Linked DNA regions of Homo sapiens. The protein of the gene in region 2 purifies or fractionates together with the protein of the main gene of each other region. This does not show direct contact. Each region holds a gene or a part of one and is shown on either strand. Other genes may lie near its edges.

Evidence for each region. Proteins that work in one complex are often made in the same cells at the same time.
Region 1: the proteins of CARD6 (region 2) and NOD1 purify together in Homo sapiens (affinity purification with western blotting, with the first as the bait; one study listed by BioGRID). This does not show direct contact.
Region 3: the proteins of CARD6 (region 2) and XK purify together in Homo sapiens (affinity purification with western blotting, with the first as the bait; one study listed by BioGRID). This does not show direct contact.

What each region holds. Positions count from the first base shown.
Region 1 is NC_000007.14:30,471,552-30,476,694, forward strand, and holds part of NOD1 (nucleotide-binding oligomerization domain-containing protein 1), read right to left. Parts: intron 4,438-5,143; exon of another isoform or gene 4,297-4,437; intron 1-4,296. UniProt on the Homo sapiens protein: Pattern recognition receptor (PRR) that detects bacterial peptidoglycan fragments and other danger signals and thus participates in both innate and adaptive immune responses.
Region 2 is NC_000005.10:40,839,549-40,845,188, reverse strand, and holds the start of CARD6 (caspase recruitment domain-containing protein 6), read right to left. Parts: upstream 3,823-5,640; 5' UTR 3,807-3,822; coding exon 3,524-3,806; intron 2,038-3,523; coding exon 1,480-2,037; intron 295-1,479; exon of another isoform or gene 179-294; intron 1-178. UniProt on the Homo sapiens protein: May be involved in apoptosis.
Region 3 is NC_000023.11:37,687,881-37,693,023, reverse strand, and holds part of XK (endoplasmic reticulum membrane adapter protein XK), read right to left. Parts: intron 1-5,143.

The DNA of each region.
Region 1 (5,143 bases), on a different chromosome or scaffold from region 2:
GTCTCTCAAGTGCACACAAATGATGAATTCAGATTTTCAAAGGTGAACAGAGCTGGGAAGGCACCCTCTTTGGGATTTCTGGGCAACAGCTAGGCGGAGCAGAACAGACTAGCGTGAAAAACTGACAGCCCTTCCCATAGCCAGGGGGCCCTGACATTTGGTGCCTACAGATTCTGACCCCCTGACCTGTACATGCCCAACCTCCCTCCACTCTTCGGGGTCTTTTGTTCCTGTTTCTAAAGAGCCAGGAAGGACTGGACTCCACCCTAGTCCATCCACTGAAGCTCCTGATGAAGGATGCCGGGTGCCTAGGAGGCCCATATGCATTTACACTCATCTGTCCCAGAAAACTACAGAGCATGTGCCGTGGGCTGGGCAGGCCTGGTTCCAAATCCTGCCTCTGCCTTCTTTCACTTTGTTTTGAGCCTCAGTTCCCTCATCTGGAGATTGAAAACTAGACACTCCAGAATTGTTTCACACACTAAGACAAGGTTTATATAGCTTAAGAAGTAGAGATTGTTCATTATCTGAATAAATAGAAGTGACTAATGATCTTTTTCTTGTATATTATGAATGACAGGAAAAAGTCAGGAGGGGAAATTCCTCCAAAGCTTCCCTCCGCACTTCAGAATAAAATCCCAAATCCTTACCCAGCCCAGGAGGCCCTACTTGGCCTGAGTGTGTCTCATTATTTAGCTCTGTACCCTCCTGGGCTTGGGCCTTACCACACCAGCCACTCAACACACCCACATCCTTCCCATTCACCTCTGGGTCTTTGAACCCACTGTTCTCTGCATCCAGCATGATTTCACTCTTTTTTTCATCCCAAGTCCTAGTTGAAAAGGCTCATTCCTTGAGAGGCGTCCCCAGACTCTCCTAATTCTAGTTCTGCTCTGATCTCCTGTCTCATGACATGCTGTTGTTTTCACTTAAAGCACTTTCCACAAGTTACAATTATGTATTTACCTGTGTGCTTACTGCCCTAACCTCCTACTTATGGACTGATGTTTATGTCCCTCCAAAGTTCACATGGTGAGGGAGAACCCCCGATTTGATGGTGTTTACAGATAGGGCTGTTGGGAGGTGAATAGGTTTAAATGAGGTCGTGGGGGTGGAGCCCCAATGATGGGATTAGTGCCCTTATAGCAAGAGACATGAGAAACCTCTTTCACAAATCAGGAAGAGGGTCCTCACCAAACTCCCATGCTGGCAACCAGGTCTCACACTTCCAGCCTGCAGAACTGTGAGAGATAAATGTTTGTTGCTTAAGTCCCCCAGTCTGTGATAGTTTTAGCAACCCAAGCTGACTAAGACATCCTCTCCACCCGGCAGCCTCCAAATTCCATATGGCCAGAGGCAGGGTCTGTTTCATTCATTGCTGTAATCCAAGTACTTAGTAGACTCCTGGCACCAGCAAGACTTTCTGATAATATTTGTTGAATTAACATGTTGCAGAATTGAAGCCCCAAAGTGCCAGAAGGAACCAAGAGCTATAAATAGCTTTCTAACAGCCTTCCACACCAGGGTAGGGGGCCAGCAGAGCACTTCACACACACAGAAAGCCAGAAAAGCAATTACTACCTCATTATCAGGAATGCTAAAGAAGCCACACCTCACTCAACTGAGAATTTGCCTTTCTGGGCCCCCAAATTCCACTGACCCAGACCTCAGGGAAGATTGCCAGAACTCAAGAAGAGGCCAAAGCCACTGGGGTAAAGGAGAGGGAGGATGAGTAAGGAATGTCAGAAAAGGTGGTGTACTTAGAACAGACCACTGCACCTTTGATGTAATATTATTTTCAATACTGTTGCTGTCCACCTGAGTCTCAACCTGGGATCTCCTAGGCCTGGTTTCTGTCTTCCAAACACCCCCCACATCTGTCTGGGTGAAGGCATGTTTTATTACACACAGGCTAACAATCTCAGTGCATCGAGATGACATTTATCTCAAAACTAACATTGCAACCCACTCTAATAATGTTAGTCAATATCGGTATCAGATTTTTTTTTCCAGTTGATATTAACCAGCCTAAGCAATGGATGAGGTTTAATGTTATCTGGAAGTGGGAGGAGGCGACAGGAGGAGTGAGCTGCCACTTTCACTTCCTAAGTAAGCTGCTCTTTGGAAGCAGGGGCTCTGTTTCCAGAAATATGGCCCTACACAGAGCATAAGCACATCTGACTGTTAATGGCAGGAGATGGGCATCAGGAGGTAGGTAGAATAAGCAGGGGTGGGGGTACTCACTGAGCAGCTGGGGCAGTGGTTAAGAACAGGGACTCTGCTTCAAGTCCTGGGATAGACTTTGGGCTAGTTATTTAATCTTGTTGAGCCTCAGTTGTCTCCTCTATAAAACAAGGGAAATGATAACCACTGCACAGGGGCGCTGGGAAGATAAAATGAGCTAAAAACAAACAACAAAAACCCTAAACTCTTAGACCAGTGTGGGACACAGGAAGTCTATGTAAATGCTATTCTTATTTAGGGTCTACCAGATCAGGCCTGTCATCATTTCATTTAATCAAATCAAGCCTCAAAGCAATCTTTCCAGATAGGTAGAGTTAGCCCATTTTACAGATTCAAAAGCCAAGGCTCAAGAAGATTAAAAACCTTATCTGAAGTCACACAACTAGGAGAAGGAAAGACCAGCCCTGGAACCAAAGTAATCATCATAATCTTTATCATCATAATCATGACTTACTAGAAGCTGGGTGATGTGCTAAGCACTTTACATAGATTAGCTCATCAAATACTGAAAACTGCCCAGCAAGGAAAGCATTATTGTAACTAGTTTACAAAGGAGGACACAGAGTTGGAGTGGTTAAGTATGTTGGTGAAGGTCACACAGTTAGTTAAGGCAGTGATCCCCAACCTTTTTGGCACGAGGAACTGGTTTCATGGAAGACAATTTTTCCACAGACAGCGGCGAGTAGGGGCACAGGGGAGATCGTTTTAGGATGAAACTGTCTACCTCAGATCATCAGGCATTAAATTCTCATAAGGAATGTGCAGCCTAGATCCCTCGCGTGTGCGGTTCACCATAGGGTTCCCCTCGCATGAGAATCTGATGCCACCGCTGATCTGACAGGAGGCAGAGTTCAGGCGGTAATGCTTGCTCACTGCTGCTCACCTTCTGCTGTGCGGCCCACCTAAGAGGCCACCGACTGGTATTGGTCCATGGCCTAGGGATTGGGGACCCCTGAAGTAAGGAATAAAACAGGAATTGGATCCTGGTTCTGACTCCAAAACCCATTGTTTCTTCCATTTCAGCCCTGCATGTCTGGTATACTTTATAGACCCAACATCTCTATTTGAAATCATCAACACGCCTGTTTTCATATTAAGTATGAAACACTAGCTTTGTTAAATGGAGTCCAGAAATGACCCACTCACTGAAGGGGCCTGTGTTGTAAGGAGTTAGGATATCCCCTGCCAAAAAAGCCTAGCTTTCCCCCAGTTCCTTCCAAGAAGGTTTGGTTTTGAGGTCATAGGCAGCAATCTGGGCATGTGTTACAAGAAGCAGGGGAAGTTCTTACTCATTAGACTTTTAATCTTTTGGGAATTAGAAAACGAATACTCTCCCAAGTAAATCATCATCTGCTCTCAGCTCTGCTATCATGTAAGGCGTTTCCTTAGCAATATGTGACTGCCAGGCCCAGTTGCATGTGGCTCTGAAAATATCTACCAAATGACTACATTCTCCCAATTCTGACCCTAACCTGTATGGTGGCAATGACAGAACAGAAGGCCAAGGGACATCAACTTTCTGAAACAAATGTAATCAAGGTGAATGTTCATGTTTTATTAAAATCTTAATCTGCCAAAATCTGGCACTAATCTGGTGCTCACTTTGAAATTATCTGGGCCCTTACTACAGTGCTCTATAATTTAGAGGAAAAGGACGCTTCAGTAAAACAAATTCTAAAGTGGCAGTTTACTGGAGAGTAACTTTTAATTTCCATGCAGTATAATACAAAATTGCCTTGTTGGCTCTAAGGACGTGCATCCCTCATCAGGGAACTCTGCCCCATTAGAGGACCAAGGTGAGATCCCTTCAGAGTGGCATCATCCCCGGTTGGCTCAATGGCTCCAGAGACAGGGAGGATGGCGAAGAGAAGGGCCGGTGGCATGCCTGCCTTAGCCAACTCTGCACAGGAATCTCTGCCCACAGTTTGGACTGTGGCAGTTCCAGATAAAACACATGTTTAAATAAGAGTTCAAGCCAGGAAGTCTTGCCTGAATGAACTTTCTAGCGTGGGTAAAAAATGTCAGCTAACTGACATGCCAGTGACTACTCACCTCTCACCACAAGAGTCAAGTTTAGAAACAACACTTGCCCTCAACGAGTATTTGATGCGCTAAAGAGTTTTTCCAGAAACCAGGTCAGACCTTTTGGATAAATCAAAGGAGGCCCCTTGTGTGACATGCAACTGACTGTCCCTAGAAGATAAAAGAAAATGGGACTTCTGAAAACTTGCAAAATACCTAGAGCCTCTGCATGACAAAAATTCAGCATAAGTACACATTTTAGCTTTTCTAATTTCTTCTTGCCTAAAAAAAATCCCCCCAATAATAAGAATGATAGAAGAAACTAGTAACTTAAACCTTAAATCCTACGTTCATATCTTAGATTTTGAACAAATATTGAATCCTTTTCTTTGAATAAGAGATAAGACTTTGATAGTCTTGTGTAAGCAAATATCAGTGATCACACATACACTAGAAAAACACTTGATCTTTATGCCTATATTACTTACTGTTTCTATTTCTGATGTCTAATCTAAACAGCACTGCTGTTAGGATCAAAGTGACCATCCATGATGCACAGAGCACGTACCAGGGTAAAGTTCCAGCTGGGACGCAGGCATCAGCAATTGTAGAATTTGGGTTCTCCCTTCCTCAGATCCCTGACTGTCCTTGGTCATTCAAGAAAGATTCACTGTCCCTAGGCCAAGAGTCAGGAGCAAAACAGGAACACCAAGGGTATGGTCTGAGGATGTTGTCAGCAGGGAGCAACGTGCGTGTGTGTGCACATACACTAATTCTGAGACACTGTGCACAGCCCAGCTTTCTTGGAAAGCCATTTAAAAGATATATATGTGGCAACAGAGAGGAGGAAGTCTCAAGATTAAGAACAGCTTTTGAG
Region 2 (5,640 bases):
CCTTCAGAAGGAACCAACCCTTGTCCAGGCACAGTGGCTCATGCCTTAATCCCAGCATTTTGGGAGGCCAAGGTGGGTGGATTACTTGAGGTTAGGAGTTCGAGACCAGCCTGGCCAACATGGTGTAACCTCGTCTCTACTAAAACAACAAAAATTAGCCAGGCGTGGTGGCACGCACCTGTAATCCCAGCTACCTGGGGAGCTGAGGCAGGTGAATCGCTTGAACCCGGGAGGCGGAGGGTACAGTGAGCAAGGTCACACCATTGCACTCCAGCCTGGGCGACGAGTGAGACTCTGTTTCAAAAAAAAAAAAAAAAAAAGAAGGAAGCAACCCTGTCAGTACTTTGATACTTTGATTTCAGATTTCTAGCCTCCAAAAGAGTGAGACAAGAAATCTGTGTTTATTGTTTAAGCCACTGATTTTGTGGTATTTTGTTACAGCATCCCTCACAAACTGATACAAGGTGTGATGAGGAAGAAATGACTCTCTTCCTACCCATAAGTGGATTATGAGTCCCCAAGATTTGAAATTAATGTGAGATGGTAGCTACATTTTCATCCTCTACTCAGAACTTAGTGATGTCTGTTTTCCCAGGCAATATCACTCCAATGAAACACTTCTCATATTTTGAATTTTCATTAAGAAATATTCAGATTTGGCTAGGTGCAGTGGCTCACACCTGTAATCCCAGGATTTTGGGTGGCCAAGGTGGGCAGATCACTTGAGCCCAGGAGTTCGAGACCAGCCTGAGCAACATGGCAAAATCCCATCTTTACAAAATACAAAATTAGCCAGGCGTGGTGGCAGGCACCTGTAATGCTAGCTACTCAGGAGGCTGAGGTAGGAGGATCACCCGAGCCTGGGAGGTAGAGGCTGCGGTGAGTCATGATTGTGCCACTGCACTCCAGCCTGAGTGAGACCCTGTTTAAAAACAAATTTTTTTTAAATAAAGAAATATTCAGATTCAAGATACAAATATAATTCTCATCAAGATGGCATTATGTGGACTGGATCAAGCCAAGTAACAATATTTTGGGATCTTAGCCATTTACTGACTGTTTTCACTTAAATAGTCAAACCCATAATCCCCATATCTCTCTGGTCACAAAGGCACTAAAATAACTAAAGTGGTTTAACCTGAGAAATAGGTTAGCCTGAAATTAATGATTAGCAACTCCTCGTACGTATAATGGGAAATTAATGATTGGCAACTCCTTATACGAACTACAGAAATTTACAAACTGACAATCAATATTTACTTTTGCTTATGCTGTCCATCATTTCCTAGGTCCTGGGAGCTCCTTTAAGTCAACACCTACCTCGAGGAGATTCCAGGTCAGAGAGGCACGAGGAATTTCTTAGTAGTTGATTTTCTGCTGACATCTGTCCCTTTTTCATCCCCCATCCCCATTATGTCATGGCAAGCTTATTAACTTATTAAGTTGTTGCCTAACTAACTATACAAGATATTTCCATACCTTCTATACTTTTCTCCTGTTCCTCCTCCAATGAAAGGCTGGTTTCTGATCCCTCATAACTTGGTTCTTCACCAGAGAACTCTGTGGTTTCTGAATTCTCGAAGTCCTCTTCACCATCATATCCAACGTGCTCTGGGTCATCATAAACCTCCTCTTCCACAGTGGCTTCTGCATCTTCAGGGGTGTCAACAGATCCTAGATATTCCTCTTTTCCTAAGTATAAAGAATCATCTAGCTCCTCATATCTCTGTCCATCTTTTATATATGTAATAGTTGCTGGAACTTCACATCCAACTTTCTCAACTGAATATGATAATGTGACTTCTGGTGTGTCATATTCCTTCTCATTCTTCCTGGCAGACAAAGCTGTTTCCCTATAACTAGTTTTCTTGTCCCTGAAAAACTCAGAGGTTTCCAAATCCAAGTGTTCCTTCTCACTGAAGAACACTGTGATCTCAGGGGCTTCAGGCTGTTTTATTCCAGGAGAAAAAGCATCTTCTGAATTACTGCTTGCCCCCATAGATTGAGGAGGTACTGTATTCTCATGTTTTAAAACTTCTGCAAAGAAAAGAATTGTTTTTCCCAATTAAGAAAAAGAAGCTGTATAACAGCTAGAGTTCCTGAGGCCTCAAAGCTTCATCCCTCTCCTTTTATTTATTTATTTATTTTTTGAGACAGAGTTTCACTCTTGTTGCCGAGGCTGGAGTGCAATGGCACGATCTGGGCTCACTGCAACCTCAACCTCCCGGGTTCAGGTGATTCCCCTGCCTCAGTCTCCCAAGTAGCTGGGATTACAGGCATGCGCCATGATGCCCAGCTAATTTTTGTATTTTTAGTAGAGACAGTGTTTCACTATGTTGGTCAGGCTGGTCTCAAACTCCTGACCTCAGGTGATCCATCTGCCCCGGCCTCCCAAAGTGCTGGGATTACAGGTGTGAGCCACAGCGCCCAGCCACCTCTTATTTCACTGGAGGACAGGAATACCTAACACCTCCTATATAACTTGCATGTCAACATGTCAACTTTCAGAACTTTCTTTTTTCCACTAAAAAAAAAAATCAGATCACACCACTGTCTTGCTTAAAGTTTGAGTCCTTCCTAGCAACCTTACAGGGTAAGTGAATAAAACGAAAAATTTGAATCATATGAACAGTGTTTACTTGTGGACTTACTGTGACTCACAACAGACTCACGTCTCTTGGGGTCATTGCTAATGAAATCTGATCACAAATAATTTCTAATCAGTAAGCAAATGGCTCTATTTGGAATAGTGTGCTTTAGAAATAATAAAAGAAAAATTTCTAAGCATATAAATCTTGTCCTAAATTAGGTATCACTAACATTCACCTTTTTATCTGAGCCTCTACCTCTCTAACATCCCTTAAAATAATTTTGAATTTTTTTTTAGATTCCTAGAAAAAGAGCTAGACCTAGTCCTAGTAGTAATTTACAGAATTGCTAAATAACTGGAAGAATTGCTTTTTCATGGACTACTAGTTATCTTTGAACCATTTAAGAATTAGCACTGGAATTGCTCCAGAAAACAGCTGCTGCTGGCATTCTTATCACCAAAAAAATGAAACTACTGATTTGCCATCTATGTGTTAAAAATTATTTTCCTTGTATTTTCAAAACGGCTATACTAAGTGAAAGATACAGCTTGTGGTCTTGGCACTGTAAATATCCACGAATTCATCTACTTGAAAAACAAACCCTGGATTGTGTTATTATTAAAGTATTTTCCTTCCAACTGTGAGATTTTAGCATGTTACTGCCAGAATAATGAGCAGTTTGTTAGCACTAAAACAACTTCAAGTTTTGAGTACAGTCTGAAAAACAAATTATCGATTCAGTAGACCAATAAGATGTTAAATTTCAGAAACTTTTTAAATTCCAGTTTTTCCCTATTTCATATTTCAATGAAAATTATCTCCAGAAAAAGACTAACAAAAATAAAAGGCAACAATTTTCTTTCATTTTGTTTTCTTTTTCAGAAAGTCTGCCCCCTTCCTCTCACCCCAAAAAGTATACAAAGTCAACTTACCATGCCTTAAGCCGCAAATGGCAGCTGACTGTGGAAAAGTACTAAATAAACACTTGAGAAAATGCTGACAGGTCGCCTCTCCCTTTTTCTGTACCAAAATTAACAGCTTCCGACTTTTCTTCAGGAGATCTGTAACATTCTCCAGAGTCTCATACTCTTCCTCAGAAATCAGCCTCCGAGAAGTTAACGTGTCTAAGATAGAATCAGGATCATGTTGAAGGATTTCAAGCAACTTTTTTCTTTCTCTTTCTATGATCTCTGAGGGAGTACTCTCGGTAGCCATTGTTCCTGTTTCCTCTAAACCAGGAAATATATTATGAAATCATCCTAATGAATAAGTAAAAGTTAAAAAAAGAATGACAAAGAACAATTCTATTTGGCTAAGCTTTAACATGTCAATGATGCCTAGTGTTGGAGAGTGCAGATACAAGCACAGTGGGGCAACCCAGCTCGGAGCACTCTCTGATCCGGGGTCCTTGTGGATTATTTATCTGCTCTTTTGAAGTCTTGATAAATTCTCACCATGACTCAGACCCAGGGTCACCTCCTCCAAGAAGTCGCTCTTGAACTTCAGGTTGGACTAGGTATTCCCTGCTCAGAGAACTATACTATGATGCCAAGAATGTAAATTATTAATTGATATTTGGTGGGCAATATGGCAATATACAGCAATAAATAAATAAAGTTGAAGACAGACAAAAATAAAACTTCATATCCTTCAACCCAGCAATTCCAGTTCTAGGAAATTATCTTAAGGAAATAATTGAGCAAATGCCCGAAGATGTATGTACAAGAATCTGCATTACAACATTGTTTACAACAGTACAAAATTGAAAATAACCAAAGTTGGGGTTTAGGGAATAAATATTGACATGTCGACAGTGAAACACCAAAGAACTGTTAAAAAGGATAAAGTACATCTCTACATATTGACAAGTAATGATATCCATGATATATTGCTATGGAAACAGCAAGTTATAGATCTCATTTTTGTTTTAAAAAACTTAATGTGTATATAGTATATGTATATAATATGTATATGCAGATATGCATTATATTTTAAAGAAGACAAGAGATATCCCAAATTTTAACACTGGTTATCTCTGAGAATATGACTACAGGGAGATTTATACTTCCACTTTAAACATTACTATTTAATATTTTACATTTTTGGTTTTTTATTATTATTTATTTTAAGAAAATTACCTGGTTGGTCTTTATTTACTCCTTCATAGTTCACAAGAACCTGAAAGCGATCTGCATAACTAGCAACAGGATACTGGATGAATAAACTGTGATATTTCTTATAACATAATATTACATGGCATTCAAAAAGAATGAACTTCAGTGACCCACAATATAGAGAAATCATAACAATAGTAAGGAAAAACTGTAAATCCCAAAAGATTATATACAGTATGACAACCTTTTTAAAAGTTGAAAATAAACACACCCTTACATTTAAGAGTATACATGAAGTCATTAAAATTATACAAAACAAAAAGCAAAGAATGATAAATATGAAATTCAGAATGATGGTTACCTCGCATATGGGGAGCTTGGGGATGGGATGGGATTGGGGAGGAGATCATGGATGTCCTACAATGTAGGAGTTGGGCCTATCAGGGCTACTATATTGTTAAAGGTAAATAGCTAATATGTAAATAAAAGCAGAACATGCATGAACCAATGCTATTAGGAACCAAGGATAATGAGTAATACAATTCTGGTATCTCCAAGGTTAAAAAAGAATTTTAAAATCCTGGCTGGGCGAGGTGGCTCATGCCTGTAATCCCAGCACTTTGGGAGTCTGAGGAAGATCACTTGAGACCAGGAGTTTGAGGCCAACCTGAGCAACATAGCAAGACCCTGTCTCTACAAAAAATTTAAAAATTATCTGGTCGTGATGGTGCGCATCTGTAGTCCCAGCTGCTTGGGACAGGAGGCTGAGGCAGGAGAGCTGCTTCGGCCCAGAAGTTTGAGGTTGTAGTAAGTTACTCTAGCCTAGGCTCTTAAAAAAAAAAATCCTCATATGATATTAAAAATTAATATTAGGTAAGAGTTTTATAAAATTGAAGAGTTTTAAAATTTTTATTTACTTTGACCAATTATAATCA
Region 3 (5,143 bases), on a different chromosome or scaffold from region 2:
TTCATTTGTTGCTAGGAGAAAGAAGGTGTATGGTGTGTGTGGGTGTGTGTGTGGGGGGGGGTTGATTTGTGTACGACATTTTGTCCCATGGGGTCAAGAACACTTTAATATATTACATGAAAACAATGTAAAACCACACAGACCAGTTTTTTCAGTTGGAAATAATGTCAATGAAGTTCAGGCCATGAGTTCAATCCCAAGCACGTCCAATTGAATTTTCTCTGAAGGAAAACTCAAATTAATGACTGAGGACTGTATGAGGCCTAGCAACTTTACACTGTTGGACCACTGATCACATCAAAGATTAGAAAACAGAATGAACTGGCCGGGGGCAGTGGCTCACGCCTGTAATCCCAGCACTTTGGGAGGCTGAGGCAGGCGGATCACCTGAGGTCAGGAGTTTGAGATCAGTCTGGCCAACATGGTGAAACCACATCTCTACTAAAAATTAAAAAATTAGCCAGGCATGGTGGTGCACCCTTGTAGTCTCACCTACTCGGGAGGCTGAGGCAGGAGAATTGCTTGAACACAAGAGGCGAAGATTGCGCCACTGCACTCCAGCCTGGGTGACAGAGCGAGACTCTGTCTCAAAAAAACAAACTAAAACAAAACAAAAACAGAATAAACTGATAATCATCTTTATTCTCAAATATGAGATGAATGCGGGTGTGGTTTACTAAGTGCTGTGGGGAATGCAGACAGCTGGATACCCCTGCCTCATTTGGGGGCACTCACAATCTAAATGGGATAGTGGGACATATGCACAATAATAATAATAATAAACGAAAATTAATATTTATATAGCACTTTTAGTTATGACATGTTATCACGTATGATCTCACTTAGAAGAAAACGTATTGCAACAATTTAAATCATAGCATTATGTATAATAGCAAAATGCTGGGAATACTCTAAAGGTCCCAAAAATGAAAGAATAATTAAATAAACCCTAATATATCAATTCAATGAAACATTATACATTCCTTAACATCAATGGTATAGAAGTACATATACCAATATATAAATTTTTTTTAAAAGACAGTCTCACTCTCTCACCAACGTTGGAGGGCAGTGGTGTGATCATAGCTCACTGCAGCCTCCAACTGCTGGCCTCAAGGGACCCTCACTCCTGAGCCTCCTAAGTAGCTGGGACTCCAGATGCATGCCACTGTGCCCAGCTAATTTTATTTTTTGTGAGGAAACAGTCTCACTATGTTGACCAGGCTACGTATTTTTACCATATTTGGTATGTGAAAGAAGCAAATTACAATAGAATCATATATTTTAAATTCCATTTTTTGTAAAAAGAAAATCACATATATAAAAAATATATACAGATTACACACACATACCCACACATACATATAAACAGTGAAATGTTTGAGCTGGCTCATACTGACTCAAGAGAGCAGACTGTTAAAATAGGAATTTTGTGAGCCAGTTGTTAAACAACTGGTAGCTTGATCAATCATGATGAGAATATACGCATTTGAGAAATCAGCAAACACTGAAAATCAGGGCTTGTTTTCCCCAACAGTTTACTAGCATACCATTATAAAAATATTAGTAAAGATATACAACAAAAACATTAGGAATTGTTCTGTCTGAGCAGTCAAATGAGAGCTTTTATTTTCCTCATTGTGCAAATCTGTTTTCTGCTCTTCTGTCATTTCAAAAAATGTTTTACTTGCATAATAAAATCAAGCTTAGAGTTTTGAAAGACTAAAACATACAAATTAAATACCAGCATATGCTAAGAACTGAATGAACGAAATGAGGGTTCAGAGGAGAAAGTAATTTTCTTGATGCGAAGGAAGGGGCTATATGAAACTGGAAGCTTTCTGCAGAATTGTAGACAAAGTAAAACTTCCATGATCAGTTGATGGAAATGAAAGAAGGTCCTAAAGCTCAGGCGGAACCTCTTGTAAGCCACTGTTTTTTCCCAGGTGATACATTTGTATTAGCATAGAGTTTTACATGTAGTCATAGGTGTTTAATACATTTGTAAAAGGCCCCAAGACCTCCTGCCACTGTTGGTTAGGAAAACTGATAAGAAACAAACTACTATTCTTGGAATTCTGCAAGACTCATCTAATTACTCAAAATCTGTTCTTATTTTTTGGTTTTTTATTTGTTTGTTGCTTGAGAGGTCTAAATAAAGCCAGAAATTAGATACTTTTATCAAAACTGAATACTCAAGGTAGTTTTTCAGTATCATCTACACCAAGGGACAGCAAATTTTCTGTGAAGTATTTATAAAAAAGTAAATATTTTATGATTCACACGCCATGGTCTCTGTTGCAACTGCTCAAGTCTGTCTCTGCAATGTGAAAGCAGTTGTAGCCAGTACATAAACCAGTGAGCAACGCTGTGTTCCAATAAGACTTTACCTACTAAAACAGGTGATGGGGGTATTAGGCCTGTGGGGTACAGTTTGCTAACCCCAATGTAGATAATCAGTAGGTTGATCCTTATTTTTTACTTTATCCCATTTTCAAGCATCATATATCCCACTTTTCAAGTATCATAGCAGAAGGAGCTTATTCCTTAGCTGAAATCATGCATGCTGATGTGAGCATAAATAATCTGTGGTACCAGAGACCCTAATTAAAATACTTTTTCCAAAGAAATACTATAATTTCCAATAAGCCACATTATCTTCACATGACACACATGCTCTGTAAGCCTACACAAAACCCAAATTGGTTAAATAGAAAATGCTGCAAAACCTTTGAAAAGCCACTTGCTTAATCTCACTGAACCTCAATTCCTGGACTGTAAAAATAAGATAATGACAGTTAACTCACAGGGTTTTACCATGGATGAAATTAAATACTGTATGTAAAAGCACCTTGCAAATGAAAAAAAAATTCTCTTCAAATGTAGACTATTAATATTTTAAATTCTTTATAAAGTTTAATATAGAAAGATATACTATGGTGAATCATTTTGCAATGTTCTGGAAAGGTTTCGGGAACTTCTTAGCCTTTATTTTATAAGCTCAGATTTTTCATGTACCATTTTTTCCTCACTATACCAGTAATAAAAAAGAAATGAGGGGAATTCCTTGAAATTGTAACTCATTTATATTTATTCCTCCCAATTAATTTATAAAAATTAGCATAAATGTAAAAGAATGATAAACAGAATTTTTAAAATGTTTTTGTGTTTTAGGTAAGAGATCTTTTCCCTGCTCTGGTTTGCTAGAGTATCTATTATAATGCGCAATAAGATTTTCCTTAAAATTATAAATAAATTCAAGGCATTATCCAAAGTTCGTATCATTCAAACTCAGGCTTAATGTGAAAACAATCATAAAAACTGTAACTACCATTTTAAATACAAGACTGATACAAATGAAATATGGTGCTCTCCCTATGCCTCCCTAAAGGAAAGAAGGAGCAAAGCCTAGTTAGTAGTATTTAGTCCAGAATCATTAGTGTAATGTATTGCAGTTTAACTGGGCCATCGTGCTGCATGAACTCAAACGCAGCATCTACCTAGCAAAAACACGAGTTTGGCTAGTACTCATCCAAAGGCAAGAAGAGTTAAACTGTCAAAAAACAATTTAGAAATATTATTAAATCCAATCCATAAGGAAGGGGGTAAGAATCACCATGCCTCTCCTTTGTTTGAGGGAAATAATTTTTATCTTTATGTAAAGCTGATGTCTTAGAGTTAAAACAGAATCAAACAGTCAGCAGGAAGAAATTCCAGTAAGATATTAAGTCAGGCTAATACACAAGAACAAACTGCTTTTCTTTTAATCTGGAAGCTAAGAGACTTGGAACCACATTTTGTATCTCAGCTCTAAGGTCATGGGTCCAATAACTCCTTGAAATAAATCAGCTGCATTAGAATCAGTGACTCCTTGTTGATGGAAGGGGTTTGCCTGTTGTTTTGTTTTTTATCTTTTATTTTGTTTTTGCTCCAAGAAGACAATGGCCCATTCAGAACTTTCTGGAAATAGGTCTTTTTATAGTGTTGAAACTTTATATATAGCTGAGAAGTTATCTCTTCAAAGCACCAAAAGTTTTCTTTCCTTAATAAAGTTAAAATATTTTTATGGTAAAAACTGAAAAATATAGAAAAGTAGATAATTGTTTTATTATATAGTTTTATATATTTTCCAGGATATTATCACTCATAACCCCACTATTCAGAAATTATTATTCTTAACATCTTGGTATGTTTCCTTGAGTTCAGGTTTATACTTGTCATCCTGTTTTTATATATATTATGTCATTAGCTTTGTCTTGGGTTACTCTTCGTGTTTAGAAACACTTTAAATGGCAGCAATGATAGGGTATTATCATTTATTGGATTGCCAAGATGACCAAACTTTTTCTTAATTTAAAATGGAACTACTAATAGAATGTACTACACAGTCCTCTGCTTTCTTCCACTGAGCATAGGGAATATAATTAGCTCTTTTTAAGGAGGCTTGAGAACATAGTCTGAGGCCTCATTTTCTTCACCTACAAAATGGGGACAATTACGTCTATGTCATGGTGAGGATTCAATGAATTGAGGCATGTAAGTACATATCAAACCATCTAGCACAAGAAGCTTTTGAGAAATGTCAGTTCCCCTTTTTCCTGTTACTCCACTTAAACATTATCTGTTTTCTTCTCACAGATAATGTTAAGAAATGATAAGGCCGGGCACGGTGGCTCACGCTTGTGGTCCCAGCACTTTGGGAGGCCGAGGCAGGCGGATCACGAGGTCAAGAGATTGAGACCATCCTGGCTGGCACGGTGAAACCCCGTCTCTACTAAAAATACAAAAAAATAAAATTAGCCGGGCGTGGTGGCGGGCGCCTGTAGTCCCAGCTACTCAGGAGGCTGAGGCAGAAGAATGGCGTGAACCTGGGAAGCGGAGCTTGCAGTGAGCTGAGATCGCGCCACTGCACTCCAGCCTGGGCGACAGAGCAAGACTCCGTCTCAAAAAAAAAAAAAAAAAAAGAAAGAAAGAAAGAAAGAAAGAAAGAAAGAAATGATAAGTGCCCTGCCCAAAGTCAGATCACACTTATTTTACTGAGCAAGAATACAGTCCAGACCACAGGGCTTACCTGGCTAGGAAGGACTAACTCTCTCCTCACTAAATGGCTCCAGGTTGCAGGACTTTTAAAATTCCCCTCCCT